Linked DNA regions of Homo sapiens. The protein of the gene in region 3 interacts with the protein of the main gene of each other region in a biochemical or structural test. Each region holds a gene or a part of one and is shown on either strand. Other genes may lie near its edges.

Evidence for each region.
Region 1: of the proteins of MYL12B (region 3) and DAPK1, one has a biochemical effect on the other in vitro, tested with the Homo sapiens proteins (one study listed by BioGRID).
Region 2: of the proteins of MYL12B (region 3) and DAPK3, one has a biochemical effect on the other in vitro, tested with the Homo sapiens proteins (one study listed by IntAct).

What each region holds. Positions count from the first base shown.
Region 1 is NC_000009.12:87,500,481-87,511,060, reverse strand, and holds part of DAPK1 (death-associated protein kinase 1), read right to left. Parts: intron 1-10,580. UniProt on the Homo sapiens protein: Calcium/calmodulin-dependent serine/threonine kinase involved in multiple cellular signaling pathways that trigger cell survival, apoptosis, and autophagy.
Region 2 is NC_000019.10:3,965,336-3,976,553, reverse strand, and holds the start of DAPK3 (death-associated protein kinase 3), read left to right. Parts: upstream 1-5,454; 5' UTR 5,455-5,633; intron 5,634-6,724; 5' UTR 6,725-6,818; coding exon 6,819-6,880; intron 6,881-11,218. UniProt on the Homo sapiens protein: Serine/threonine kinase which is involved in the regulation of apoptosis, autophagy, transcription, translation and actin cytoskeleton reorganization. Involved in the regulation of smooth muscle contraction.
Region 3 is NC_000018.10:3,270,479-3,280,887, reverse strand, and holds the end of MYL12B (myosin regulatory light chain 12B), read right to left. Parts: intron 8,005-10,409; 5' UTR 7,990-8,004; coding exon 7,806-7,989; intron 3,636-7,805; coding exon 3,474-3,635; intron 3,124-3,473; coding exon 2,951-3,123; 3' UTR 2,427-2,950; downstream 1-2,426. UniProt on the Homo sapiens protein: Myosin regulatory subunit that plays an important role in regulation of both smooth muscle and nonmuscle cell contractile activity via its phosphorylation. Phosphorylation triggers actin polymerization in vascular smooth muscle.

The DNA.
Region 1 (10,580 bases), on a different chromosome or scaffold from region 3:
GCAGGAATGAATGAAGAGGTAGGACCCGGGAACACAGATTCAGAAGCATGTTATACTGTCGCTCTCCCTCTCTCTCCCGTTCCTGCTCTGTCTTGTTAAATAGCGTCCACCTCTCAAGCACTTACTGTGTGCCTAGTACTGTGCCAAGCACTTTATACATATCACAGACATCCTCACAACCACCTTATGAATTAGCCGTGATGACTATCCCCATTTTACAGATGAGAAAAACTAAATCTCACAGAAGTCAAGTGACTTTCCCAAAGTAACAGCTAATGTGTTTTGTGGAGACAGGGATTTGGGTCCAAAGCCCTGAAACACTGTTCTAATTTCTGCATATGTACCTTTATAAGGCAACGAAATAAACATGGCTTACCGTGCACTTAGCTGAATTCCAACCAACACCAGAGACAAAAGGCCATGTTCTCTACCCTCAGAAAACTCACAGTCCACAGGGGAAGCCAATAATCCCACGCATAAGTCCCCTGTAATAAGAATGCCAAGTGGCCAGTTATCTACTCCAAATCGTGAAGGAATACAGGAAATCAGAGCAGGAGCCTTCCTGGAGGAGTAGCCTAGGACATGCTCTGGAGAGGTTGCCAGGAGAAACCGGCTGGGCCATTTCGCATGTGTATTTCCTTCTCATTCTCCAGGTTATTATAACTTCTCTCAATGCAGATAAGCATTATCTGCACTAAAGAGAATGTTGCTTCTAAAAGACCTACAAAATGATGGTTCATATTAATGAGTAATATTCTTAAAACAGGATCTACTCATTCAATGCCCAAATCACACTGAACAAAACCAAGGGACTTCCTGCTTCTCCATGGCCACGAGGCTGACATTACCCTGTCTGCTCCATACGTGTCAAGCGTTATCTCTTCCAGCCAACGAAGGGGTGGGGAGGAACGCACAGACTGACAACGTTTCATCCTGTAGATATTCCACTTGTGCTAATTCACTTCCTCTCCCAAACAATTGAAACGGATGCCTGAGGCTGTATGTAATGGAATATACGATGGAGCCTGGGGCACACCCTTATCGATTCTAAATGGGCGAACTGTAAATATATTCTGTTTAGTCCATCTATAGTGACTTAGTCAGAAAAAGGGCAAAAGCGGCCTGGCCGTGAGCTCACTGGTGCCACTGCCTCCATGAATGGCAAAGGAACGGAGCAAGTGAGAAAGAGGCCTCCTCCATGTGCTGTGGTGCAGAAGGAAAAGAAACCGCGATCATCTGACGCCAGAAGAGCTCCCAGGAATGAAATCTGTGAAAGATTCTGGCATCACTCCCAGCAGTTCACACACTGACTGTAGAGACTTTGAATGGCAAAGCCAATATCTAGGAAGACAATTTTCTATATTCCCATCCCAAGTGCACAGAAGAAAACGCTGGCAGGATGGCCGGGCGCGGTGGCTCACGCCTGTAATCCCAGCATTGTGGGGGGCCGAGGCGGGCGGATCACCTAAGGTCAGGAGTTCAAGACCAGCCTGACCAACATGGAGAAACCCCATCTCTACTAAAAATATAAAATTAGCGGGGCGTGGTGGTGCATGCCTGTAATCCCAGCTACTCGGGGGGCTGAGGCAGGAGAATCGCTTGAACCCGGAGGCAGAGGTTGTGGTGAGCTGAGATTGCGCCATTGCACTCCAGCCTGAGCAACAAGAGGAAAACTCCATTTCAAAAAAAAAGAAAAGAAAATGCTGGCAGGCTGTGCTTTCAATTATACTGATTTATAGGCCAATGAAATATTATTTTAAGGTAATAAATAACTTTTTAGCGCTTTTTGCCTTACCAAATTCCTAAGGACAGCTCTTCTGTGTATTATATACCATTCAGCATCTCCAACATGAGCAGCACCCATTAAAAGTCTGTTCTCTACAGGATACGTATACCTGCAGCGCCTGTAGCTTTGTTTTTATAAAGCCAAACAGCTTGTAATTCCTAGTCTATTAAATATTACACTCCAAAGGTTGCAGCCTTTCATCACTTTCCCAGAGACACACATTTCTGCTGCTTACCCATAAACCACAGATGGCCTCAAAAATTGAGCTTTACACAGAGGAGGCAAAACAATTTCGAAAAACTTCTCAAAGGAGGGTGGAAATATCGGAACTGAATCAACACTAAATTCTGACCTCTTCTCTCTGCCTGTCCCATGGTATCCTTCCGCCACTTTTTTTCTTGCATTGCTTTAGGTGTACCTATCCTCTCTGAGGCAGCCCAGTCCTGGATAGACATATGAGGTGCTAGGCAGACAGACAGGCAGCTCAAAGGAAAATCTAATCATTTTCATGAATGGGGAAAAAAAAGAATGGCATTGATGACTTTCTCTACATGTCTTTTTCACCTGGAAAATTCTATACTGTGGGTCAGGTGTCAGGGGTTGTAGTAAGGTCTCAAAAATCCTGACAATCGTGGCCGGGCACGGTGGCTCACGCCTGTAATCCCAGCACTTTGGGAGGCCGAGGTGGGCGGATCACGAGGTCAGGAGATAGAGACCATCCTGGCTAACACGGTGAAACCCTGACTCTACTAAAAATACCAAAAATTAGCCAGGTGTGGTGGCGGGCACCTGTAGTCCCAGCTACTCGGGAGGCTGAGGCAGGAGAATGGCGTGAACCCGGGAGGTGGAGGTTGCAGTGAGCCGAAATCGCGCCACTGCACTCCAGCCTGGGCGACAAAGCAAGACTCCGTTTAAAAAAAAAAAAAAATCCTGACAATCTTTCTAAGGTGAAAAGGAAAAGTTGGACCAGTGCGGCGACTCACACCTGTAATCCCAGTACTTTGGGAGACCGAGGAGGGCAGATCACCTGAGGTCAGGAGTTCCAGATCAGCCTGGCCATCATGGTGAAACCCCGTCTCTACTAAAAACACAAAAATTAGCCGGGCGTCGTGGCGGGTGCCTGTAGTCCCAGCTACTCAGGAGGCTGAGGCAGGAGAATCACTTGACTCAGGAGGCAGAGGTTGCAGCGAGCCAAGAGCATGCCACTGCACTCTAGTCTGGGTGACAGAGCGACACTCCGTCTCCAAAAAAAGGGAAAAGTTTATACAGTTTCAAAAGTAAAAGCAATGAACTAAGACATAACTATTCAACAATGAAAAGTAGTTCATTTTTGTAGGTGAAAATTTATAATATCAACTGCACTTAAAATATTTGCCAGCCAGCCTCATTCATCACATATTTCCTAAATAAGAATAATCAGGCAGTTTTGACAGAAAAATAAAATGTGTCCCAAAAGAAGTCCGTACCTCGAGCCAAATTTCCCAGCCAAAACCCATCAGGCTTATGAATATAAGTGCCATCAATATAAACTTTTCACACTTCAGAGATCGGCAGTTTACAAGCATTCATTTGCTCAAACATTATGTTCTTCGTCCAAAGTTGTATGTGTTTATAAAGGGAAAAAAAAAATCAACAACATTCTCCCAACCTCCTTCCCTCCCCTCCCCACCACTCTGGCATCTCTAATTATATGTTAGGTTACTGAATAAAATTTTTCAAGCTCACAACTGAAACATCGAAAGGTAGTACATAAGGTAAAAGCCCCGTGAACACCAGATGCGGTGGCTCATGCCTGTAATCCCAACACTTTGGGAGGCTGAGGCGAGCAGATCACCTGAGGTCAGGAGTTCAAGACCAGCCAGACTAACATGGAGAAATCCTCTAAAAATACAAAATTAGCCAGGCGTGGTGGTGCATGCCTGTAATCCCAGCTACTTGGGAGGCTGAGGCAGGAGAATCGCTTGAACCCAGGAGGCGGAGGTTGCAGTGAGCCGAGATAGCGCCATTGCATTCCAGCCAGGGCAACAAGAGCGAAATTCCGTCTCAAAAAAAAGGCCCCATGATCACTTCTCAGAAGTAAGCAACATTATACTTCAATGACCACAGTGTGATCCATATGCCACACCAGCTGTCAATGTCACCTAAAGACCAAAGTGACAAACCCGCGTCACTATTGGACCACGCTTGTCAGGTATCTCCAGAGATTAGTTACTATCACATGATTGTTTTGTTTTGTTTTGGATTGGGACAGAAGATAAAACACAACTATTTTAGGTTTTAGATTTTTTATTTGTAAAAACCCACCCAGCACATTAACTCTAGAGCTGGGATACAACTGTACTTACCTAAGAAAGATTTAATAGTTAGAGAAAGTTAGTTTAAATCCATTTTAGTTAGATGATGTGGAAAATCGGAGTGTCAACTTCTTTTTTCTTCCACCTTCTTCTAACTGCACCTTTAAAAAAATTCGTTTATAATAGAATGTACCCAAAGTCATACACTGAATTTATTATAATTGTACTGTCATATAACCTCTTTCAAGGCCGAGAAAGGATGCATTCCATTTGTATAATTTACCCCAACAAACCAGAACAAAACAATTAAATATTATCTTCCACATAAAGTCTCAAACAATCACACACCAACTCTAAGCTAGCCAGACTAGTTGTTGCGTAAGGAAATGAGAAACTGTTGGTCAGTGGCAGGTAGGTGCACGGGTCAGAGACAAGACTCTTAGACATTACATAACTCAAAAGTTAAATAACAATGAAAGTGTTTTTGGAGTTTTCTAAAAAGGTAAACCATTAACTTGGGACTTGAATAAAACTACGCCACATGTTGACATCATTCCAAACTGCAAGGCTGAAGCCATTTGGAAAAGGAAAGAAGGTCCCAGTGTGTCGTTAAGGCCTGCGAAAGTTCTGAGCTCAAAGGGCAGACCCTGTTGCCTTTGGCTGGGCTTCAAATGAAAACCTTCCATGAAGGGTCTACTATTTATCCCTAACCATTTTCTCCATGCAGATGCTGAAATAAATTGGCGCCAAATGGCTGCCTACTTCACCTCTCTTAAATATCAACTTCATCTGGCTTTCAAAGATGGAAAACTGCCAAATCCTAAATAGCACAGATAATGAAATAGGCCTGGCCCTGGGTTCTGGGTCCATGTCTTGCCACCTTTTAATCAGCTGCCTGGAGAAAGCCACTTGACCTGTCTAAACACAGGTGGATAAAATGTGAAGGGAGGCAATGCTGGTCACTCAGCCTTCTTCCAGGTCAAAGTCCCGGCCAGGCACAGCGAGAGGCTGACGCTTATAATCCCAGCACTTTGGGAGGCCGAGACGGGCGGATCACTTGAGGTCAGGAGTTCAAGACCAGCCTAGCCAACATGGCGAAACCCCACCTCTACTAAAAATAAAAAAATTAGCCAGGTATGGTGATGCATGCCTATAATTCCAGCTATTTGGAGGCTGAGACAGAGAATCACTTGAACTGGGGAGGCAGAGGTTGCAGTGAGCCAAGATCGCCCCACTGCACTCTAGCCTGGGCAACAGAGCAAGACTTCGTCTCCAAAAATGCAAAAGGCCAGGCACAGTGATTCATGCCTGTAATCCCAGCACTTCGGGAGGCCGAGGAGGGTGACTCACGAGGTCAGGAGTTCAAGACCAGCCTGGCCAAGATGGTGAAACCCCGTCTCTACTAAAAATACAAAAAATAAGCCAGGCACGGTGGCAGGCGCCTGTAATCCCAGCTACTTGGGAGGCTGAGGCAGGAGAATCACTTGAACCCAGAGGGCGGAGGTTGCAGTGAGCCGAGATCACGCCACTACACTCTAGCCTGGGCAACAGAGTGAGACTCCGTCTCAAAAAAACAAAACAAAATCAAACAAACAAAAAGACACAAACAAACAAAGTCCCTGAGCTCTCTGGGGTACTCTTCCCCAATGGAAACCACTCCCCTCTTGTCAGAAGAGTGGCTTCCTTTGTCTCATAATCAGAAATAAATTTCTACTAAAATAATATTCACTTAATTTATACAAAATGTTAGGTACTCATGGCAGTTGGCTAGAATGAAGGATGAAAGTTCCTAACACATTTCCCTGCTGAGTCAGGCAATGTGACCTTGACCATGCCACTCCCAGATATCAGATATCCAGCAGCTCAGCCCCTCACCCCTAATCATCTGGAAAGAAGTGGTCTGGATTACAACTCTGCTAGGAGGGAAGAGAACAAGGTGGAAGAGCCAATGTTGCCTCTCCTGATATAACACCTGTATACAACTACAGTCAGCCCTCTGGATCTGTGGGTTCTGCATCCATGGATTCAACCAACCTTGTACCAAAAATATTCAGGAAAAAACTGCATCTGTACTGAACATATACAGACTTTTTTTTCTGGTTATTATTCCCTAAACATTATAATGCTACTATTTAGTTAGCATTTACATTGTACTAAGTATTGTAAGTAATCTAGAGATGATTTAAGATATATGGGAAGATTACATCAGTTATATGCAAATACTATGCCATTTTATATAAGGGACTTCAGCATTTGTGGATTCTGGTGTCCCCAGAGGTCCTGGAACTAATCCGCCATGGATACCGAGGGATGAGTGCACTGGAATTTATCTGGACATCCATCTCTGTAGGTTTCTTATGAGTTTTTCATGGCTTTGCAGAGGCATATACCAATGATATGGGGCCTTCAGTTTCCTCATTGGCCGGGGAGACACAAGCTGAGGGTAAAAGAGCATGGGGGACCAAGAAGTGAGCTTCCATGTTCCCTGGCTTCCCGACCAATAAGCACCTCCACCTACTCTGTTCCTGGCCCCCTTGAACCTAAATTTGATGCCTGCCCTAGTAATCCAGCAACACACTCCCAGTGCCAGCAAGCAAGCATTCAACCAAACTGCCACTTACTAACACCATCATGCTTTCCCTTCACATCCTGGAAAATTATTATTAGACCTTCCTAAAATGTACACACTTTTAAAATCACTAACCGTTGCCTTTAATCTATGTAGCTGAACTTTATCTCTCTTAAAACTTTGGACCCTTTCCTATCAGAGGAAACATCTGAGAGCATTCTGAGTCAAAAATGCTAAGAGGAAAAATGTCACATTCAGCACAGTCCTATAAGGATGCAGAAACCCACCGGTGGCCTGCGGTTCCCATTTCTGAAGAAAAAACATGCCAGAAAGTCTCTCCCCTTCTATGAGCCACACAGGGTTGCCATTATTCATAGGACTGACTCCTGCAATCCACAGTAAACCGGTCTAGAGAAGCACTTGGACTGCCAGGGCTTATGACAATTTCTTACTTCAATTAAAATGCCTATGGATTTTATGCCGAAAGGGGAATGTTTTAAACTTGAATTATTAGCTTCCAATGACCATCCAAACCAATGTAAAATATTTAATGCTCCACTTCATTTGTTTTGTTTAAAACTGATCTTGTGCTTGAAAATTTTGGCTGCTGTGCTCATTACTGTTCAGCCACAAAGAATGCAAAAACAAGAGCAGTTTTTATTTTGATGAGCGGCAGCCATTATATCCTAAGTGTTCATCTTCACCACAAGCCATCATTTGTTGAGGCCCTAATACATACATATTCTTTCAAGTTGCTTTACATATATTGATCCACTCAGTCTAGTCTAACAGCATGCATTTACTGAGCGCCTTCTAAGTGCCATGCATCAACCTGGGCATTAGAAATAAAAAGTGAGGAGCAAGTCCAAGGTAATGGCCCCATGGAGAAAGCAGATCATCAAATAAGCAGTTACTATGCAATGTGGTAAATGCTGTGATGGAGAAAACAGGTTATTAAAAATAATAAAAATGATATATTAGAGGCCAGGCACAGTGTCTCTGCCCTATAATCTCAGAGCTTTGGAAGGCCAAGGTGGGAGGACTGCTTGAGCCCAGGAGTTCAAGGTTACAGTGAGCTATGACTGTGCCACTGCACTCCAGCCTGGGAAACAGAGTAAGACCCTGTCTCTAAAATATATATATATATACATATACACACACACATATATATAAAAAACATATACATATATATATATTTTAGACACATCACACTTAGTAGGTGTTCAGTAAATGCATATCTACCTGTAGACTAGAAAGACAGACTGCATGTCAGATGTTTAAAGCCACGTCTGTAATTCTAACAACACTCTACCAGGGTAGGTGTCTCCCCACTTTCCAAATGAGCATTCTCAGGTTTTTCCACACTGCACACTGCCTCTCTAACAGTATCAGCATCAGCATCATCGTTTGCATCTTACATCCCCATTCTGGTCTCAAAATTACACTTGCCAAACTGCATTAGCTCATTGAGGCATGCATTAATCCCAATATTGATCATAGATACCAATTTGCAGGAAGTCTATGAAACCCTGCACACCATGGGGAGAAAGGACCACAACAACTCCAAACCACAGGGCACACCCCAAAGAAACTCACAAGCTGGCTGCAAAGAGTAATACAAGACTAATAAACATGAAACAGGATAAACATGTCACTGGGCAGTCTATGGTCATGGACAAAGAGAGTCTCAGAGAAGTCACTTGACTTTAAAAGGGGAAACTCATTGTGGAAGGATTCATTAAGGAAGTAGGACTTAGGTCTTAAGATCATATAAGGTCAGATGGTGCAATAGGAAAGAAGGCCAGTCCCTCAGGAAAGCAGTGTACACAGAGAGGTGCCCAGGAGGCTCACAGGTTAGGCTGAACGACGGCCAAGGGTGTAACTAGAGCCCGACAATGGGGCAAGTCAGCCTGCAGCTGCCCGAGGTGCCAACTGATAAGAGATGCTAGGGCATCCTGGGGCATTAAAACACCTCGGTATAATAGCAGATTTATAAGAACTCCTCCCAGAGACTATTACACATCATGGAGGCAGTTCTTTGTTCCGCCTCCTGGGACAGAGGGTGAGACCCTAAAGGGCCTCCAGGAGCCAAAACTGAAGGCCACCAAGCACCCTTCTAAAGATAACAAGTGCATCTGCTGCAGGGACTTGCTTCTGCTTGGAGGGTGTGCCAGCTCAAGGCCAGGGCTGCATTATTCAGAATCATAGTGGAGGCTGAATGCTGTCAGCAACCCTTCTCCCCATGACCCTTTTCCTATAAGGCATCCCCTCCCAAAGCTGGTAAACAGAAACTTAAAGAATATTGACTTGCCGGCCAAGTTATTAGCTTGCCTGGGGCACCCAGATGTCTCAGCCAGTCTACAGATAATATCTATATTTGTTTAACTCTCTACTGCTGATCAACTACTTTTACAAGTTAGATTATTTTTACAACAGCAATGAAAAAAGCACTAAACCTCTCATAGAGGAAAATCCTGAGTGTCAGAGTGGGTAAATGGCCTGTTCAAGAAAACTGGCAAGTTGCAGAGCCAGGTTTTGGACCAGGGTATCTGTCCAGTGGCCCATCTGCTCTATTACTGCTGCAGATGGACTGCTGCAATAGTTGCAATACTCTATAAAGTTCCTGACCGTTGACAGAGAGCTTTTACAGAAGTCTTAGGCAGTACACACAAATACGAACATTTTCAATTTTCCTAAAAGTAAAATAACATTAACAATAATACTTGTACTCTACTTCTTCAAAAACCCATCTTTCCTCCTGGCTATGTACTTTGTCTCACTACATTTATAAGGTAAGTGAATCGTTATTATTTAGATGACTGCTAAAGATATATAAGTAAAGTCTTTTTTTTCTTTCTTTTTTTTTTGAGACAGAGTCTCGCTGTATCACCCAGGCTGGAGGGCAGTGGCGCGATCTCCATTCACTGCAACCTCCGCCTCCCAGGTTCAGGCGATTCTCATGCCTCAGCCTCCCAAATAGCTGGGACTACAGGCGCGCGCCACTGCGCCTGGCCAATTAAAGTCTTAAATCTTAGATAATTTTTTTTGTATTTTTAGTAGAGACAGGGTTTCACTATGTTAGCCAGGCTGGTCTTGAACTCCTGACCTCGTGATTTGCCTACCTCAGCCTCCCAAAAGTGCTGGGATTACAGGTGTGAGCCACCTCGCCTGGCCAAGTAAAGTCTTAAATCTTAGATACTGGTCTACTAGTAATTCACTGCTTAGAATGACCTTGCATTTGTGCCACATATCTGCCCATTTCCATTTTCCTGCCACCAAACTCCTGCCTCCACTCCCAATCTTCCCTCAGTGACACGTGATGTCATATAAGCAGCATCTTCCTACATGTCCATTTTACATTAGGACTTGTTTTCAGGAAGTGGCTACATCCAAGGCAGACATAAAATCAGGACTTGAAAAATTTTCCAAAAAACAATCATTCACTCATTTTTTGGCAAAAACAATAGCAGTTATACAAGATAGATGAGTCTGTACATTTCATTTTTAAAAACTTCAGACTTCCAGTTTTTCAGAGCATTTCTTTAAAATTCCTAGGTCACACAAATTATTTAATAAACAATTTGTCAATTTGCCTTGCACAGTGGGGAGAACGTTATACACAAAAATGTACACTGAGCAAATCAAAGTGCTAGTGACAAATAAGTAAGCCACCTCCCTCCCCTCATCATCACGCCCACGAAATAAAGATCAAAAACTCCCTTCGCCAACCACAGGGAGGCCTCTTTTTCTATTTCTTTCTCATAACACATAATGGTACCAAAAAATCATAATGAAAATAAGGTCAATATACTTAATCCATAATATAATAATCTCAACTAATTTTAGTCATCTCTCTTTCTAACAACACTTAAACGATCAGGCCACACTATGCAAATCAAATTAAAATTTATTTTTTTGCTTTTTTCTTCCA
Region 2 (11,218 bases), on a different chromosome or scaffold from region 3:
GCGGCCCTTCCTGCAGCGCCTGCCGCCCCGGGGACTCGCAGCACCCACAGCACCACGTCCTCGAATTCTCAGACGACACCTGGAGACTGTCCCGACACAGCGACGCTCCCCTGAGAGGTTTCTGGGGCCCGCTGCGTGCCATCACTCAACCATAACACTTGATGCCGTTTCTTTCAATATTTATTTCCAGAGTCCGGAGGCAGCAGACACGCCCTCTTAGTAGGGACTTAATGGGCCGGTCGGGGAGGGGGAGGCGGGATGGGACACCCAACACTTTTTCCATTTCTTCAGAGGGAAACTCAGATGTCCAAACTAATTTTAACAAACGCATTAAGAGGTTTATTTGGGTACATGGCCCGCAGTGGCTTTTGCCCCAGAAAGGGGAAAGGAACACGCGGGTAGATGATTTCTAGCAGGCAGGAAGTCCTGTGCGGTGTCACCATGAGCACCTCCAGCTGTACTAGTGCCATTGGAATAATAAATTTGATAAGGTGGTGACTCTGTTCTGCATTTTTCACGGTGTCTTCGCAGGGGAGCGGGGCTGCCCAGTACTGGGCTCCCTGGAGCCTAGAAGGGGACCCGGGCCCTAGTTAGGTGCAGCCTGGGGCTGCCTCAGTGTTAGGTGGAACGTTCTGGAATGGTGGGAATGCCCTACCCCTGTGTCATTCAGAGAAGCAGCTGCCAGCTGCGCGGGTCTGCTGAGCATTTGAAGTAGGATCAGTGCGGCAAGGAATTACGAGATGTCACTTTGAACGCATTTGGATGGCCCTGTGGAGCGAGGGGCTCTGGATTGAACTTCGCAGGTTTCAGCAACTTTCCGAATTGCTGACGAGCTCACAAGTTCTATCTGCCATCAGGATTTTCTGTGGTCACCCCAGTCCTGACTAGTTTATTAGAAACCCATTTTTTTTTTTTTTTTTTTTGAGATGGAGTCTCACCGTTTGCTAGGCTGGAGTGGAATGGCACCATCTCTGCTCACTGCAACCTCCACCTCCCGGGTTCAAGCAATTCTGCCTCGGGCTCCTGGGTAGCTGGGATTACATGCGTGTGCTACCACGCCCAGCCAATTTTTATATTTTTAGTAGAGATGAGGTTTCACCATGTTGGCCTGGATGATCTTGATCACTCGACCTTGTGATCCACCCGCCTTGGCCTCCCAAAGCGTTGGGATTGTACCACTGTGCCCGGCCTTGTAAACACTTTTTTAGAGGCAGAGTCTTGCTGTCTCCCAGATGAGTATAGTGGTGCAGTCAGCTCACTGCATCCTCCACCTCCTGGACTCTCCTGCCTCAGCCTGCCAGGTAGCTGGGACTCCAGGCATGTGCCACCATGCCCAGCTAATTTTTATTTATTTTGAGACAGAATTTTGCTTGGCCTGGTTGGTCTCGAACTCCTGACCTCAAGTGATCTGCCCGCCTCGGCCTCCCAAAGTGCTGGGAATTATAGGCGTGAGCCACTGTGCTGACCTAATTTTTACTTTTTTTGTAGTAATGGGGTCTCACTATGTTGCTCAGGCTGGTCTCCTTCCCGGGCTCAAGCGATCCTTCTGCCTCAGCCTCCCAAAGTGCTGGGATTTCAGGTGTGAGCGCCAATAGCTTAGAAAACTATTTGTTTTTCTAAATAGTGCCTAAGATGTGAGGAGGCCTAATCTTGTCAGTGCTGATAAGGTTAACATGATCATTTTCCGCCTTTTACTCTGTCCTCAGGAAGGCAGGTGGGGACTGTGAAGTAGGGCTGTGGGGTTCTCGGCAAAGGCGGGGGCAGCTCTGGCCCTGCATTGTCAAGGCCAAGCCTCAGCTGAGGTTTTGCCCACATGTAGGTATGCCTGAGGTTTGGTTTGGCTGTCGCATTTGAATTGGGGCTGTAACTGACGCTGTTTCCAGCAGTCAGGGTAACGGATTACTGTGTTTCGAGAATCTCACTCTATCGCCCAGGATGGAGTGCAGTGTTGTGATCTTGGCTCACTATAGCCTCTGCCTCCGGATTCAAGTGCTCAAGCAATTCTTGTGCTTCAGCCTCCCGAGTAGCTGGAATTACAGGCGCCTATCACCAGGTCTGTGTAATTTTTGTATATTTAGGTGAGATGGGGTTTCACCATGTTGGCCAGGCTGGTCTCAAGCTCGACCGTAAGAGATCAGCCCGCCTCAGCCTCCCAAAGTGCTGGGGTTACAGGTGTGAGCCACCATACCGGGTCCTATTCTTTTTTAGTAGTGCAAACGTTAAGATGGTATGTGGAAGCTGAATTTTTTTTTTTTTTTGAGACAGTCTTTGCTCTGTCACCCAGGCTGGAGTGCAGTGGCTCAATCTTGGCTCACTGCAAGCTCCGCCTCCCGGGTTCACGCCATTCTCCTGCCTCAGCCTCCCGAGTAGCCGGGACTACAGGCGCCCGCCACCATGCCCGGCTAATTTTTTGTATTTATTAGTAGAGACAGGGTTTCACCGTGTTAGCCAGGATAGTCTCGATCTCCTGACCTCGTGATCCACCCGCCTCGGCCTCCCAAAGTGCTGGGAATTATAGGCGTGAGCCACTGTGCTGACCTAATTTTTACTTTTTTTGTAGTAATGGGGTCTCACTATGTTGCTCAGGCTGGTCTCCTTCCCGGGCTCAAGCGATCCTTCTGCCTCAGCCTCCCAAAGTGCTGGGATTTCAGGTGTGAGCGCCAATAGCTTAGAAAACTATTTGTTTTTCTAAATAGTGCCTAAGATGTGAGGAGGCCTAATCTTGTCAGTGCTGATAAGGTTAACATGATCATTTTCCGCCTTTTACTCTGTCCTCAGGAAGGCAGGTGGGGACTGTGAAGTAGGGCTGTGGGGTTCTCGGCAAAGGCGGGGGCAGCTCTGGCCCTGCATTGTCAAGGCCAAGCCTCAGCTGAGGTTTTGCCCACATGTAGGTATGCCTGAGGTTTGGTTTGGCTGTCGCATTTGAATTGGGGCTGTAACTGACGCTGTTTCCAGCAGTCAGGGTAACGGATTACTGTGTTTCGAGAATCTCACTCTATCGCCCAGGATGGAGTGCAGTGTTGTGATCTTGGCTCACTATAGCCTCTGCCTCCGGATTCAAGTGCTCAAGCAATTCTTGTGCTTCAGCCTCCCGAGTAGCTGGAATTACAGGCGCCTATCACCAGGTCTGTGTAATTTTTGTATATTTAGGTGAGATGGGGTTTCACCATGTTGGCCAGGCTGGTCTCAAGCTCGACCGTAAGAGATCAGCCCGCCTCAGCCTCCCAAAGTGCTGGGGTTACAGGTGTGAGCCACCATACCGGGTCCTATTCTTTTTTAGTAGTGCAAACGTTAAGATGGTATGTGGAAGCTGAATTTTTTTTTTTTTTTGAGACAGTCTTTGCTCTGTCACCCAGGCTGGAGTGCAGTGGCTCAATCTTGGCTCACTGCAAGCTCCGCCTCCCGGGTTCACGCCATTCTCCTGCCTCAGCCTCCCGAGTAGCCGGGACTACAGGCACCCGCCACCATGCCCGGCTAATTTTTTGTATTTATTAGTAGAGACAGGGTTTCACCGTGTTAGCCAGGATGGTCTTGATGTCCTGACTTCGTGATCTGCCCACCGTGGCCTCCCAAAATGCTGGAATTACAGGCGTTAGCCACCATGCCCTGCCACTTTTTTTTCTTTGAGATGGAGTCTCCCTCCGTCACCCAGGCTGTAGTATAGTGGCATGATCTCGGCTCGCTGCAACCTCCACCTCCTGGGTTCAAGCAATTCTCCTGCGCTAGCCTCCCGAGTAGCTGGGATTACAGGCATGTGCCACCAGGCCTGGCTAACTTTTGTATTTTTAGTAGAGACAGGGTTTCACCATGTTGAGCAGGCTGGTCTTGAACTCCTACTTCAAGTGACCTGCCCGCCTTGGCTGCCCAAGCTGTTGGGATTACGGGCGTGAGCCACCACACCTGGCCAACCCATTGTACGTTGAAAATGTAAATAAAAAATATAAAGGCCGGCTTGTGGCTCACGTCTGTAATCGCAGCACTTTGAGAGGCCGAGGCCGGCGGATCACAGATATTGAGACCATCCTGGCCAACATGGTGAAACCCTGCGTCTACTAAAAATACAAAAATCAGCTGGGAGTGGTGGCGTGCACCTGTAGTCCCAGCTACTCGGGAGGCTGAGGCAGGAGAATCGCTTGAACCCAGGAGGCAGAGATTGCAGTGAGCCCAGATCTCACCACTGCGTTCCAGCCTGGACGATAGAAGGAGACTGTCTCAAAAAAAAAAAAAAAAAAAAAAAAAGGCTGGGCAAGGTGGCTCATGCCTGTAATTCCTGCACTTTGGGAGGCCGAGGCGGGCGGATCAGGAGGTCAGGAGATCGAGACCATCCTGGCTAACACGGTGAAACCCTGTCTCTACTAATAAATACAAAAAATTAGCTGGGCGTGGTGACGGGCGCCTGTAGTCCCAGCTATTCGGGAGGCTGAGGCAGGAGAATGGCGTGAACCTGGGAGGTGGAGCTTGCAGTGAGCCGAGATTGTGCCAGTGTACTCCAGCCTGGGTGACAGAGCGAGACTCCGTCTCAAAATAATAATAAAAAATGAATTTAGGCCGGGCGCAATGGCTCACGCCTGTAATCTCAGCACTTTGGAAAGCTGAGGTGCCGGATCACCTGAGCTTAGGAGTTCGAGACCAGCCTGGGCAACATGGTGAAACCCCGTCTCTACTAAAAATACAAAAATTAGCCGGGCGTGGTGATGGGCACCTGTAATCCCAGCTACTTGGGAGGCTGAGGCACGAGAATCGTTTGAACCCGGGAGGTGGAGGTTGCAGTGAGCTGGATACCGCCGCTGCACTCCTGCCTGGGTGACAGAGTGAGACCCTGTCTCAAAAAATAAAATTAAAAAAAAAACAAACCTGATACCTCCCAGTGTTGTCAGTTGGCACATACTATGTCTCAATAAAATGCTTGCTGTTACCCTCTATTTTGAGACGAAGAGGGACCCTGTGTATGACAACCCCAGATTGACCTCATTTGCATTTTAAGTATTTAGAATGTGGGTAACAGTTTTCAGTGGAGGAAACTGCCACATAGGGACTAAAGCAGTCCCAGGGTCCACTCCAGGAGCTGCCAGGCGCGCTCGGCCACAGGTGAGCCATCCATTCGCCCAACCGGTGCTCCAGGAAGGCAGGAAGCGGGATGCAGGGCTTCAGCCTCACTTCTCGCAGCTTCAGCACCTGGGTCAGAGGAGAGGCGGGCGGGGCGATGAAGGGACCGGAAGTCGGCCTTTTTTCCGTCCGCTTGACCAGCGTCGACTGCAGCCAATGAAATCAGGGATGGCGAGTGTTCAGCCAGTGGTGAGGCTGCATCCGGGTGTGGGTGCCGAAAAGGCAGCTGGGGGCGGGACGTCGAGGTGCGGCACGAGCGGCGGGCGCACCGGCCAATAGGCGGCGGGGTTCGTTTCCCGGGGGTGGGCACTGGCGGGTGCGGTGACGTCGGCGCAGGCGCGTCGCGGCGGCAGGGGCGCGGGGCTTCTGGAGGCGGCGGCGGTGGCCAGCGCGGCGGCGCCGGCCGTATTCTCCGGGCTGCGGAGGGTAAAGAGCGGGCTCGGGCCGAGGCTGGAGGGCTGGGTGGGGCCAGAGCGGCGCTTCGGGGGCCCGCGGAGGACGAGGGAGGGAGAGAATCTGAGGAGCTGGTAGGTTTGGGGACCCATCTGGGTGACCGGGCCGGGGAAAGGGCTCGGCCGGGCGTGCGAGGGGCGTAGCGGCCCCAGGGATGCTGGAGCGGAGCCTTAGGGATGGGCAAGGCCTTGGGGGCGGGGGGAGGTTCTGCAAAGGGAGCCACTGGGGTCTGCCTAGGGGCTTGTGCGGAGATTGCGGGCGAGAAGGGGCAGAGGACGGTGGAGGAGACTCAGATGGGGCCCTTTTTGGCGGCCCGTTTTGGGGGGTAGGGGAGACGGCGGTTGGGGGACTTTGATACATGGAGCGTGGAGGAAGAGGTTAATCTTGCGAGGACAGTGGAGGTCAGCGGGGGAGGGAGGCAAAGTGGGCTTTCAGGAGCGTGGAAGGCGTCGTCCGGTTCTTGGAAAATTCAGAATTGGAGGGAGTCAGAGATGGTTGGGGGTGGGCGGGGGTGTTCCATCGATGAGGGTCTTAAGAGACCTGCCGAGGGCAAGGACCAGGAGGGGTTAAGGTAGTAACTTGGGAATTTTGATCGGAATGGCAGCACTTTGGGAGGCCTGGGACGATCGCTTGAGCCTTGGAGTTCCAGGCTGCAGTGAGCCATGATTGCACCACTGCACTCCAGCCAGGGCGACAGAGCGAGACTCCTTCTCAAAAAACAACAACACCAACAACAAAAGAAGTAGACTTGAGAACTTCGTTAAGACATTGGCCAGGGAGTAAGGTAGCCCTGGGATTTGAGGTTGAGGAGAACGTGCAGGAATGGTGGGGGATTTTGGCTGAGCAGGTTGAGAGAAGTCTAGGAGTGAGAGGCAAAAAAAGACGCAGGCAGCGTCGGGGAAATCAGAATTATGTGTCTGGAGAGAGTTTTGCGGGGTGAAGGTGGCCCAGTGGGGCTGTTACCAAACTTTTGAGTGGTTATGGGGCTCTAAGAGGTGACATGACAGGACCCAGCCCAGTAAACACAGCACCTCTTTTTGTCGAGTTTGGAGCTTCAGAGTGGAGAGGTGGGAGGCTTGTGTTTGCTGGACAGGTCTGTCCATTAATCTAGGAGAAAAGGGTGGTGTCTCAGTTCCTCACTTCTGTCTTTCCCTGTCTTCTCCAGGGTTGCCATTAGGGGACTCCTGAGGTCCTATCTCCAGGCTGCGGTGACTGCACTTTCCCTGGAGTGGAAGCTGCTGGAAGGCGGACCGGCCGCCATGTCCACGTTCAGGCAGGAGGACGTGGAGGACCATTATGAGATGGGGGAGGAGCTGGGCAGGTGAGCTGTCTGCCCGCACGGCTGGGCTCCAGGGATAGGAGAGAGGCGCTGTGGGGTTTTCTGAACAGCAGCTCTCCTTTCCTGTTCTTTATCCTGTATGCTGAGAAGGAATGAGTCAGTATCATGCGGTGGGGGAACGAATTTGGGCCGTGGAGTCAGACAGCCCCGGCTGTGAATTCCTGCTTGGGAATCCTCTGTGTGTTTCCTGTGGGGAGAAAAGTAATTGAGCCGTTACAGCAGCCAAGACCGTGCCTGGCATGGGGCACCAGAGCAACAGATGCCAGCTGCTTTTGTTATTAAAAGATGTGTCTTCTGCCTGGGCAACATAGCAAGACTCCATCCCTACAAAAAATAAAAATGAAAAAAAATTAACCAGGTGTGGTAGCTCATGCCTGTAGTCCCAGCTACTAGGGAAGCTGAGACGGGAGGATGGCTTGAGCCCAGGAGTTGGAGGAGGCTGCAGTGAGCTATGATCGTGCCACTGCACTGTAGCCTGGGCAACAGAGTGAAACCCCATTTATTTAAAAAAAAAAAAATCTCCCTGTGTTAATCCTCTTTTGTGGGAGGCACTTTAGTTTTTTTGCCCAGCTCTTGGATGTTTAAAGTGGGGGGAGGGAGGGGCGTGTCTCCCAGCTGGGCCCAAACCTCGGTCAATTGTTTAACATGCTTGTGGGAAAAAGCAGAGGTTTCCTCTTCCAGGGAGGCAGCTGATTTCCTGCCTGTCTGGGCCTTGGAGGGTCCCCCTGGGGCCCCACCCCCTCCAGACTAGCCAGGCACCACTAGGCCCTGCCTCCTTTTGTAGAGCCTCCAGCCTTATTTGGTGAGTTTGCTACTGGCCAGCCTCCCTGGAGCCTCCCCATGATGTCACCAGAAGGGAATGTAAATAAGTGAGCTCTGTGTCAGGCTAGGGAGAGTGCTGCAGGCTCTTTTGGGATCCTGAGGTCCCTCCTTCAGGAATTTCCTCGTTAGTGGCAGAGAAAGCATGCTCCCTCCTCCCCCTTCTCATGCTTCAGTGTTGACCCCTCCTGCTAGGGGTCGTTTGGCAAAAGTCAGCAAAATTCAGCCAAATTTCTTTTAACTCGCCGATTTCACCTCTAGGAATTAATTCATTGGAAAACTGTACATACATGGATGGAATGACTTAAGACTGGGGTAGTTGCTAGAACGTTTACCAGAATAACAGCCTTTTTTTTTTTTCCTTGACACTATCTCATTCTGTCGCCCAGGCTGGAGTGCAGTGATGCGATCTCGACTCATTGCAGCCTCGGCCTCCAGCCTAGCCTCCCGAGTAGCTGGGATTACAGGAGCCCGCCACCACCCCTGGCTAATTTTTGTATTTTTAGTAGAGACAGGATTTCACCATGTTGGCCAGGCTGGTCTCGAACTACTGACCTCAGGTGATTCACCTGCCTCGGCCTCCCAAAGTGCTGGGATCACAGGCGTGAGCCACCGCACCCCGCTGGGAACAGCAGCCTCTTAAATGGCCTTCCCCAAACCACTGCATCAGGGCTGGAATAGGATGCAGCTTGTAAAAAGAACCAGGCAGGGCCAGGTGCGGCGGCTTCCGCCTGTAATTCTAGCGCTTTGGGAGGCCAAGGCGGGAGGATCGCTTGAGCCCAGGACTTCAAGACTAGCCTGGGCAACATAAGTTGACCCCCATCTCTCAAACAAACAGAAATTCATAATTTTAAAAAAAGTATTTAGCCTTCTGTTTTTGCCGTGAAGCCTTGGAGGTCTGGTGTGTATTTCATGTCGCAGTTTTTCTCGGGACTGGCCACACCTCACGGGTTTGACAGCTCTGGGTGGCCAGTGTCTGCTGTTCTGACGGCACTGCTTCAGGTAGTGGTCTGGAACATTCTCAGAGATACATGAAGTGCAAGATGAAGGCCCAGAATGTAGCAATTTTTGTTTGTTTGTTTGAGACGGTGTCTGGCTCTGTTGCCGAGACTGGAGTGCAGTGGTGCCATCTTGGCTCACTGCAATCTTCGCCTCCCGGGTTCAAGTGATTCTCCTGCTTCAGCCTTCCAAGTAGCTGGAATTACAGGCGCCCACCAACGTGCTCAGCTAATTTTTGTATTTTTAGTAGAGACGGGGTTTTGCCATGTTGGCCAGGCTGGTCTTGAACTCCTGACCTCAAATGATCTGCCCGCCTCTGCCTCCCAAAGTGCTGGGATTACAGGTGTGAGCCACTGTGCCTGGCCCCAGCCCACACTTTTTTTTTGAGACGGAGTCTTGCAGTGTCGCCCGGGCTGGAGTGCAATGCCGCAATCTCAGCTCACTGCAACCTCCGTCTCCCAGGTTCAAGCGATTCTCCTTGCCTCAGCCTCCCGAGTAGCTGGGATTATAGATGCCTGCCAGCACGCCCGGCTAATGTTTTTGTATTTTTAGTAGAGACGTGGCTTTCACTATGTTGGTCAGGCTAGTCTTGAACTCCTGACATCGTGATCTGCACGCTTTTGCCTCCCAAAGTGCTGGGATTACAGGCGTGAGCCACTGTGCCCGGCTTCCCAGCCCGCATTTTTAAACATCATGAACTCTATCAGTAGAAATTGTCGGTGTGTAGGCCACGCTTGGGTCGTGTCTGGGTTGTGGCAGGCACTTAGGAAGTGGGTTGGGAGTGACACCTGAGACCATCACTGAGGAGGGCTTGCTGTGCCCCCACCTGCGCTGGGGGCTGGGGAAGTTACAGAGAAGCGAAGAGGGTGGGCTCAGCTCTTGGGGAGTTTCTTTCCCGGCTGGGGAGATGAGGCACGTTTCACATTCCGTAGAGGAACTGAGAGCCTGCCAGTGGCCTTGCCTCTAAGGAGCAAGTCTGTGGCCAGTGAGACCGGGGGCTGTCTGGAGGTGGGCGGCTGTGGTCTGCTGTTGCTGTAGGAGGACTCAGTGGCAGAACCTGAAATCTGGTTGGCAATAGCAAAACAGGGAAAGGCGTGGTTTACAGAACCAGGTTGTCCAGGTGTGCAGCGGCCGCAGGTGTGACTGGGTGCTGGTGCATATGGTGCCCTGTGTCCCCGGGGCCGAAGTCCACTCCAGCATGGAGGAGGCGCCCTGGCAGAGTGAATGACGGGGCTTATGTGCCACCCGCAGTGCCTGGTGGCTCCCCTCTCCTGGCCTGGTCTGTTCTTAGGCAGGCTTCTTAGGTAGCCTTCTACGTGGTGGCCCCTGCCGCGAGCCTGGATCCAAGCCCAGCAGAGGGAGAGAGAGATCCTCTCTTCCCAGCAGGCGTTCAGAGCCCTGTGGACTGGACCGGTCTCTTTGGGCTGGAAGGCGTGGTTTTCTGCTTGCCCAGGTCCAGTCGTGTCCCCTTCCACCCCTTTCCTGGGCCACTGAGTCCCACAGACTGAGAGTGAGCGGCAAAGGCTGCCCTGGGACAGCTGGGTCTGTTAGCAGGAGACAGCGTGGAGCCGGGAGGTAGGCACGCAGGAACCCGGTACCCAGCAGCAGCTGTCTGCTTCCTGTTAGAGCACCTGGGCTCTGGAGCCTGCAGCACCTGGTTTGAAGGTTTGAATCCTCCCGCCACTGACTGACTGCATGACCTTGGGCTAGTTGCTTTCCTTTTCTCAGCCTTGGTTTCTTTAAAATGCGGATACTGGCCAGATGTAGCGGCTCCACCTGTACTGCCAACACTTGGGGTGGGGGAGTGGGAGGATCTCTTGAGGCCAGGAGTTCCAAAGCAGCCTGGGCAATACGGCAAGACCCTGTCTCTACAAAAAATAAATAAATCAGGTGTGGTAGTGTGTTCCTGTAGTCCCACCTACTTGGGAGGGATCACTTGAGCCCAGGAGTTCGAGACCAGCGTGGGCAACATAGTGAGACCTCATCCTTACAAAAAGAAAAAAAAATTAATTGGGTGTGGTGGTATGTGCCTGTAGTCCCAGCTGCTTGAGAGGCTGAGGCAGGAGGATTGCCCGAGCCCAGGAGGTCAAGGCTGCAGTGAGCCATGACTGAACCACTGCATTCCAGCCTGAGCAACAGGGCCAGACCCTGTCTCAAGACAAAACAAAACAAAAACAAAAAAAGCGGATCTGGCACTTGCCTTGCACTTTTTATTTTTTTGAGGCAGGATCTTGCTACGTTGCCCAGGCTGGAGTACAGTGGCACAATCTCAGTTCACTGCAACCTCTGCCTCCCAGGTTCAAGCGATTCTCCTGCCTCAGCCTCCCAAGTAGCTGGGATTACAGGCACCCGCCACCACACCCAGCTAATTTTTTGTATTTTTGGTAGAGACAGGGTTTCACCATGTTGGCCAGGCTGCTCTTGAACTCCTCAGCTCAAGTTATCTGCCCTCCTCGAACTCCCAAAGTGCTGGGATTACAGGCGTGAGCCACCGCGCCTGGC
Region 3 (10,409 bases):
GTGTAACTTTGGGAAGTTACTTCCTTGCCCCCTGACATTTCATTTGTAGAACAGGGATAACAATACCTACCTCAGGCCGGCCGCGGTGGCTCATGCCTGTAATCCCAGCACTTTGGGAGGCTGAGGCGGGCGGATCACTTGAGGCCAGGAGTTTGAGTCCAGCTTGGCCAACATAGTGAAACCCCATCTCTACTAAAAATACGAAAATTAGCCAGGTGTGGTGGTGCACACCTGTAATTCCAACTACTTGGGAGGCCGAGGCACGAGAATCGCTTGATTGAACCTGCAAGTGGAGGTTGCAGTGAGCCAAGACTGTGCCACTGTACTTCAGCCTGAGTGACTCTGTCTCAAAAAAAAAAAACAAAAAAAACCCAAAAAGACCTACCTCAAAGGGCAGTTGTGTAACGTGCTTCGTACATAGTGAATACTCAGTGCATTTTCACTATGTGACCACACACACACACTCACTGCAGTGGCCACAGAATCAACCATCAACTTAGGAGATTGTCACTATGTGGTTCTCAAAAGGAGATATTAAGTAGACAAAGTTTTCATCGTCATCATTAATAATATTTACTGGACACCAAAAAGAAACAAAGTCTTGGCCCAGGTGTCTTCCACTACTGGATTCCACAACACTCTTCACAAATAATACAGATGAAACAGAACAGTGTGTCAGGTAAACGTAAGGCAGTCGAGAAACAACTAAGTTTTTTTGTTTTTAATCTTCAAAACTTTTCTCTCAATTTTTCAAATCTGGCTTTAAGCAGATCAATAAAATAAGCACAGTTACGATTATGCCAGAGATGGAAACAAGGCTGAGCTGGAGGGGAGGAAACAGATAGGACCCGGAGAGGCGTTTTATAGCTATCTCCCCTGGACCTGAGTCCATGCTGCCCCCTCTTGCCTGGACGACGGCAACAGCCTCCATACCGGCCTTCTTGCTTCTCTTCGTGCCCCTCCATTCAAGACACAGCACCAACACTGATTTTAAAAATATAAATCACCTTTCTTCCCTGCATTTCACATTAGGACTCTGCTCCAAATACCCTCCCTGGACCCGTATCATCCATGTGCTCTCCCGATGCTCCTACCACACGACAGCCTCGCCCTGATCCTCACATGGGTCCGGACCTCCTTCCTGTCATTCAGATCTCAGCTTACCACCCAGAGGCCTTTCCTGACCACCCTGTCATGCATGCCCAGTTCTCTGCACAGCACTTAACCTGAAATTGCACATGGATTGTCTGCCAGCAGAGAATGCAGTCCCACGAGGGCAGCATCCTTGTCTGTCCCACCCCCCAGTTATCCCCAACCCTTACAACAGTGTAGGGTACATAACAGGTGGTTGACAATGGTTCAATAATCATCAAGATTATCCCACCGTATTTTTCTGTTTCCTGTGAAACACACAATTCTCCACCTGGTTTTGTGACACATTGTGGTGAGTTTAAGCTTCTAAGTGGAAAAAAGAGCCAGATGTAGATTCTTATATTTGTTAGATCTTGGGCAGGAGCTTCAGTCTAAACTTCAGGTCTATTAATAAAAAGTAGAACTGATACCTCAGAGACTAAGAGGATTGGGTGATAAATGTGACAGTTCATATGAGCTGCTCCCTCATTCTAATGATAAAAGGAAGCCCAGGCAAATTGTTAGCAAGTGAATACAGACCAGCCTACTGCCCCAAGTTGTAAAGCACCAATATTAAACAACATATAAATGCTTTGGTGTTAAGCAGACAAAATACCATCACAATACTTTTAAGAGGGGAAATCGGTATTGAACAACGTTGGGTAATTTTTTAAAACGGATTTTTTCCTTTTTTAGATTGTTCTCTTTATTCTCGTATTGCTTGGCCTTGAGGATTCTGAGCTCACAGCAACCTTGTCTTTCGGCTCTTTTCTAGTCTATATATTACATGAAGTGCCTTCAAACACACAATAGTATTGTTTATTTTAACCTGGAATAGAATTTTCTGAAATTCTGTTCCAATCATCAATTACCCCAAGATTATTTTAAATTTCAATAATGACCACAGAATTGTATCATAATAGAACAGAAATGTCTTGACTCTTTTAGACATTTGGGGCTTTTCAGAGACAGTATCGTGGTTCCAGCACTGTGAGCTCTGAAGTTAGGTGCCCTAGGTTGGAATTCCAACTCATGTCCTAATAGTTACCCTAATCAACTGCTCAAGTATGCTAGGTCCTCCCACTTGAAATACAGGGCTAATAAAAATCCCACAAGGTTGTTGGGAAGATTCAAGAAAAATTGTGTAGGCACAACGCTCCACATATAGTAAATGTACAATAACTAATCTTCGGAATTTTGCCTCTTCTCAGAATCTTAGATGAACGCAATGTTTAATGTTTTCCCAGATACATTCTATATTTATCATTTAATAAACATCTGACTAGAAGCGTGAAAAACAATGGCATAACTAGTTTTTACTGCATAATAATGTTAAAGGGTACTTAAAAGTTCTGAAGAACACTGTCCCATATATGTGAAAAATCAATTTTACCATAAAACCTGAATCATATGAAGTTGAAAACCTGAAAAAAGGACTACCCCCACCTATCAATCATTTGTTTAACTTGCCATTACATTGCATTTGAGTCAGCATAATCTTTATTTCAAAATAACATTTTTATTATATAAAAATGTAAAAATCCAGCAAAACCAGAAATACGAATATATTTTTCTGGGCTTTCACATTTGTTGATTTTTATTCGCGATCTTTTTCAATACAATTTACACCCTCATCCCCATTTCCAGTCTGATTATACAAGTGCTAAGTGGCAGAAAGGTCTGGAATAAATACATCAAAAAGAAGAGGCAAAGCTGTGAAACTAAGTTGCATGCAACAGGTTCTATGAGGGTGGGGGAAGTGTCTGAGAAGTAAAAGAGAGTAAGACAATGTAACTGGAAGATTTTAGCTAAAGTTCTTTCAGTCATCTTTGTCTTTGGCTCCATGTTTCAGGATGCGTGTGAACTCGATGTAATTGAAATTCCCCTTTTTGTCAATAGGTGCTTCTCTGTACAGCTCATCCACTTCCTCATCTGTAAACCGATCCCCCATGGTTGTCAGCAGCTCTCTTAGGTAATCTTCCTGAATGGTGCCTGGAAGACAATAGAAAGAAGAAAGCAGTCATCAATACTTCCTGGCACTTTGATGGTTCATTCCTAAAGCTTGTCAATCGTATAAAATATTTCAGAATATCCATATCTATAAACAAAGTAAGTTAGTGAACTAAGGCTATATGAACTATATCATTATGTTTTCCAATTATTCTTAGAGTTCTGTGTTAATATTAGATCAAATCATTTAAAAGCTCAGAAACAGATCATATGCTTACAAAATTATTCTTAAGCAAATATTTTCTAAAGGTAAAAAAAGAAAACCCCTTCTATTTCACAGAAGTACTTTATATAGTGTGGAATGAGGCTGGGCATAAACAAATAGCACTCACCTGTTGCTTCTTCATCAAAGCAAGCAAAGGCGTTTCTGATGACATCTTCAGGATCTGTGCCATTTAACTTCTCACCAAACATGGTCAGGAACATGGTGAAATTGATGGGCCCTGGGGCCTCATTCATCATGGCATCAAGGTATGCATCAGTGGGATTCTTCCCTGTAAGAATACACATTTTAACATTTAAAGACAAAAACATTTAATTTCAATAGTTATTTCACTATTATTATGCTCCCCAACATATTTTTAAAATGTACATCATTTGAAACTAATTTTTCAATTAACTTTAAGAACATTTTAAAAAGATTATTTTTGACAACTTAAAAAATATTGGATACATCATTATAAAAATGTATTCCAGGCTTATATTGAAGGTTATTTATTCGTTTATGTGAACTTTCTGTTCATTATTTTTCATTAAAAACAAAACAAAAACCTGAAGCCAGGCAGTGCCACATTATTACATCTTAATTTTTTTTTTTTTTTTTTTTTGGACTATAGGCATGTGCCACCATGCCCTGCTAATTTTTTGTTTTTTGTAAAGACTGGGTTTCACTATGTTGCCCAGGCTGGTCTTGAACTCCTGAGCTCAAGTGATCCACCTGCCTTGGCCTCCCAAAGTGATGGGATTGCAGGCGTGCATCACCGCGCCCGGCCTACATCCTGAATGTTGATAACATCAATGGTCCATCGGGGAGTCAGTTCAATACCAGTCATACAAAAAAATCTAAATATTCACACTTCCAGTTGTGGTACAGATGCCCATAAGTTGATATGCTTCAAAGTTGTATTTATAAGTTGGCCATTTAAGTTTAAACTATTAGCATGGTTTTGAATTGGCAGCTTATTTTGAACAATGTTAGATATCTTCAAACACTGTTTACACATGTCATTGAACTGTGGTCTTCTTTGGTATTGTTTGTAATGGGAAATCTTAATCTCCATTCCAAGTGTGAACACTTCTTTTAGTGCAGTGGTGAGGGAACTCCCCTGACCTTTCCCTAGGAGCTGAAAGAAATCTCCCTGGAATGGCCAGACATGGTGGGAGTGTTTTTGAGGCCCCGTGGTGTGGGAAAAGCAGCACTGAACCAAGGATCTGGAATACTGGGTTTGAATCCCAGTTCTACCACTGGTTGTGTGATATAGGAGGAAGTGGCAGAACTGGCATTCAAACCCAGTATTCCAGATCCTTCGTTCAGTGCTGCCTTATGTAGAATTTACTTCTTTTTTTAAAAAAGTCTAACATTGACTGGTTAAAGTTGGTATCTCAAAGGTATCTTCCAACATTAAGTTTATATGATTTTACATGAAAAGAACATCTATTAGTCAGATATTCATATCTAAGGAACCATCTCAAAATTATACCCAACTAAGTCAAAGCTAGAATGACAATCAAAGCTACCATTATAGTTCATATGTAAGTTTTAATTCTGGGAATTTGGGTGAAATGTAAACATCATGTTGGCATCTATTTCACTGCATTGCAGTCCTACCTGATTACACTTACTCAATGTTCCAATATCAAAATTAGCCCAAAATTAAACTCAAGATTCACTGAATAAGTTAAAGTAGCTAAAAAGATCTACTTTTCTACCTCCAGATTTAACCCAACTCACTTGCAGCATTTTTTGGGGGGAAGAAAAACTGTAACCAAAAGGTGTGAAGAGAACGCTAGGGTACAAAAAGTTACAGGGATTTAAAATGAATTGGTTTAGGCTAAGCACTTATGGACCCGCTCAAGACATCCAATGTAATCTGTTGATTTGAAAGGTAAATACGTATCTTTTAAAAATTCATATTTATTTAAATTGCTTTGGGTACACAAGAGGTGTATATATTTATGGGGTACATGAGATACTTTGATACAGGCATATAATGCAAAATAATCACATCAAGGTAAATGGCATAGCCATCCCTTCAAGCATTTATCATTTCTTTGTGTTACCAACATTCCAACTATACTGAGTTATTTTAAAATGTACAACAAATTACTGCTGACTGCAGTCACCTTGTTATTCTATCCAATACTAGATCTTATTCATTCTATCTATACTTTTGTATCTATTAACAGTTCCCACTCTTCTCCCTGCCCTTCCCAGTCTCTGATAACCATCCTTCTACTTTCCATCTCCATGAGTTCAATTATTTTAACTTTTAGCTCCCACAAGTGTGTGAGAACATGTGAAGTTTGTCTTTCTGTGCCTGGCTTATTTCACTTAACATAATGTCTTCCATTCCATCCATGTTGCTGCAATGACAGGATCTCATTTTTTATGGTCGAACAGTATTCCATTGTACATAAGTACCACATTTTTAAAATCCGTTCATCTGGTGACGGACACTTACGGTGTTTTCAAATCATGGCTGCTGTGAATAGTGCTGGAATAAACATGGGAGTGCAGATACCTCTTCAATGATACTACTGATTTCCTTTTTTGGGGGTATATACCTAGCAGTGGGATTGCTGGATCATATGGGAGAGCTCCTATTTTTAGTTCTCTGAGGAACCTCCATAATGTCCTTCACAGTGGCTGTACTTATTTACATTCCTACCAATAATGTATGAAGGTTCCCCTAAAAGGTAAATACATATGTTAAAGCAAACTAAATATGGCCTGAGAAAGACTCCGTACTTCTACAGTTGAGTCCTTGTGAATGAATTATAACCTAGCTTAATAGTCAGACAAGACTGAAAACCTAACTTAGGAGTATGAGCCTGTAACAACTGCTAAGCCTTGGCCAATCTCAGCAGCCATACTTCAACCATTCATACACTGCTGAGTGTTCAAACCATGTTCAAATAAGGCATATGCCGAGCTGTAATCAATCAAGCCATTCCATACCTCACTTCCAATTCCTGTACGTCATTTCCCTTTTTTTGTCTATAAATCTTCTTCTACCACGTGGCTGCACTGGAGTCTCTGTGAATCTGCTGTGATTCTGGGGTTACCTGATTCGCAAATTGTTCATTGCTCAATTAAACTCCATTAAATTTAATTAGGCTGAAATTGTTCTTTTAACACGTATCTTTAAAAGGATGGGTTTCTGCAAAACAGAAGGTCTCAAAGACAACCTCTGACTCTACCATGACTTGTTCGTTCAACAAATATCTATTGAGCATCTATTATAAGCAGAGTATAGACTTGAGAGTTCAATCTTTGGAAGATGGCTACATTCCTCAATTTTCCTCAGAGGCCTTCTTCAGTACTGACTTGCCCAAGAACATACTCAGACATTCTGAATGTGAGAAACACTAGGTTATAATCTAACTACAAGTCAACAAATCAGATAAAAATCTTTGATTCTACTCTCACCCTAGATAAAGAAAAGTTACAAAATGTTAACAATCAGTGAATATAGCTAAAGATGTATAGGTGTTCACTATAATGTTCTTTCCACTTTTTGTAGGCTTAAAAGTTTTCAAAATCATATGTTGGATAGGAATAAGTACACACCTAAACTTTACTTTCAATGTGTTAGGAGAAATAATCAAAATCAAAAGTTAGAAGAATAAAAGCTAGCTGATCATTTTGTAGGCATTAAAAGAGAGAAAAAAAAAACCCCCACCTCTTTCTTTGCCTTTTTGGCCAGTCAGCCAAGCAGGAGGACAGAGCGCAAAGTCTCACTGTAGGCCATCCCTGACCCACTCCCAGCCTGCCTCACCCCCTCCGCTTTGGCCTATCAAGGTCTCCTTTGCCTGCAGTTCCTTGACTCCCAACTGTAAATTAACTGCTGACTCTGGCCAGAACATGTAGGATGCATGTTAAGAAACAATAACAAAATCATACAAGGAATATTAACACCCATATACCAACATACAAATGGCTGTTTATGTGTGCTTTAAATCCTGTATCTTTACATTTTAGTTATTAAAAAAATCATACAAAATATTGTGAAAGTCTTCTTCACTGTGTTCCCTTTTCCAGTCGCACTGCCCCTCCTTCCCAGAGATAACCATCATCACTTACTGTCACTCCTTGTTTATAACCTGTACTCAACCTTTATTAAGTATATTATTTAGCTACACTTGTTTGAAACTCTGGTATTTTGCTGCCTAGCCATGCCCTGGCTTTCCATCTAGAGACCTAAAAAATTTAGCTAACAGGAACATTAGCCTACCCGGGCACAGCATCTGCCAGGTCCCCAACCTTGTAGGCTTATCTCCATATGACTGGCCAAGCCCCAAAATAGCACCTCCCACACCCAGAAATCTCTCCAGAGGCCTTTTGAGACAAGGAGAGAAATATTTGTACATCGCACAAAAAAAAGATTCATAAAGAGACAAATTATTATTTTAGGGAAAATACAAATAAAGAATATAAAGTCTACCTAGAGAAGCAAGCATATCATGCAAATCTTCCTTGTCGATGAAGCCATCTCTGTTCTGATCAATCATGTTGAAGGCCTCTTTGAACTCCTGAATCTGTGACTGGTCAAACATGGCAAACACATTGGATGTTGCACGCTGAGGGCGCTTCTTGGTGGTCTTGGTCTTTGCCTTTTTGCTCGACATGGTGGTTGTTTAATTCTGGATTAAAAAAAAAACACAAAAACGTAAAACAAAACAATGTATAAAACAAAGCAAAAACAGAATACATAATACCTAAAGTCTGTAGGTAAAAATATCAATAAGGAATTATTACTTCAATTGGGTAGGAATAAGTATGCACCTAAACTTTATTTTCAATGTGACAATTAAATGACTGAGTGGAAAAAAAGCAGTTTTGAAACATTAAGGAACAGAATTTGCCAGACACCAGTGGCTCATGCCTATAATCCCAACACTTTGGGAGGCCAAGGTGGGAGGCTCACTTGAGACTAGGAGTTCGAGACTTGCCTGGGCAACATAGTGAGACTCCCATCTCTAAAAAAGAAAGAAACACAATAGAAATTATTGATGTACCTTGTCCTAAACTTCAGGGGATCAATTTTTATGAAGTGAGAATTTAAAATATCTAACAATAGCTAGCATCTATGGAGTACTTACTCTGGCCAAGCACTGTTATGAAGGCATAGGGCTTCCTCAAAGAGAAAGTCTCCAAAGTTGATTTCTTACTCTGACAAAGACTGTCCCCATTTAATCCTCACAACAGTTGCCTATGGTAGGTACTCTTATTCCCATTTTACTACCAGTATAACATAACCTCTCTGAGCCTCAATTTTTCATCAGTAAAACATGATATCTACTTCAATGCAAAGAACTAATTGAGATAACATATGTAAAAAGACTAGTCATGTTCAAAAAAGGTCTCATCTTTATAAATATCAAACCCACCCTTTCATCTTTCTAGCTATCCCTGCATTTCCCTTTTCCCTTGACAAGACTTTCAGAATACCAGTCTAATGCTGAACTGTCTTCATTTTTCCTTCTGTTTTTTATTTTAGAGATGGGGGGTTTCTCACTATATTGCCCAGTCTGATCTTGAACTCTGAGGCTCGAGATCCTCCCAAACTGCTGGGATTACAGACATGAGCCACCGTGCCCAGCCCCTTTTCTCTTCTTCCCAATCATTCCTCCATTCTCCGTAATATGGCTTTGGTAGTAGCTTCCAACACTCTACTGAAAGCCACCAATAATTTAAATGTCAAGCAGAAAAGGCACTTGTCATTTCATTTTTAATTTGCAGTTTTAAATAATAAATAAAACACAAAAATACCATCAGCTCTGGAGTTAGGAAGTCCTGAGTTCAAATCTCAGCTCCACCGTTACTAGCTACATATAACCTCTGAAAACCTATGTATCTGTGAGCCTAACAGCTTTCAGTGAGTTCTGTGAGTCTTAGCAAATAATCAAACGCAAGGGTGGTCTTAGGACATCCAAACTTGAAACTGCTGTCAGAAATGATGGTCTTGCAGACTGTTTCCGTAACTTCCTGCAATGTGAAAAACAAATGACTAGAGAGGTCAATGACTGAGCAAGGGGATTTTGGACCTAAGTCTCCAGGACTTCTGGTATTGGGATTTTTTATATAAATGTATTGTCTACTTCTATTTATTCAAGCTAAAGAACATCCCACAGGGTGTTTTGAAGCTTGGCTTAGTGGTGTTGTTTTGAAGTACACCAGCCTTACAGTCCTTACTCTAACATTCCAACTCCTTACCCTCCCCATATACAAGTCCTAAATAAATGTTAATTTTCTTCTCTTCCTTGTAACTTAGTTTGTTATTTGACCTTAGTTATATCGAAGGTTAAATCAGAGACAGAATGTAGTCTACTAACAAGGCATTTGATTATGTTTTCATTCTTCTTCACATACCAAAACTTAGATTAAGGTTCATTCTCATGCTAAAAATTTTGACTCAATTTCTTCAAGATTAGTCAAATACATCTGAAGGCAAAAATTATTAGTTCTCTCTCAGTATCAGCAAGTAATTTTTGTAATCGAGTTATTTAGAAAAAGTTCCAAAAGAGTTAAATATTTATTTTTAAAAACGAATCAGGCCGGGTGCGGTGGCTCACACCTATAATCTCAACACTTTGGGAGGCTGAGGCCAGAAGACTGCTTGAGCCCAGGAATTTGAGATAGGCCTGGGCAACAAAGTGATACTCTGTCCCTACAAAAAATTTAAAAAATTAGCCAGGTGTGGTGGCACATGCCTGTGGTCCCAGCTACTATTTGGGAGGCTGGGGTGGAAGGATCATTTGAGCCTGGGAGGTCGAGGCTGGTGAACCGTAATGGTGCCCCTAACCTCAGCCTGGGTGACAAAACGAGACACTGTCTCAAAAAATCAAATCAAATCAAATCAGAATCAGTCAATTGTATCATGCTACTTCTACAGTTAACCCAAAAATATACTATATTTAAACATTTTTGAAGTTTAGTCCGAGTTCTCTAAGAAGCTGATACCAAGACAGAATGAAACACCCAAGGATTTTATTAGGGGAAATGCCTGTGAGAAAGAATAGGGAGTTAGTTAGCCTGATAACTAGAA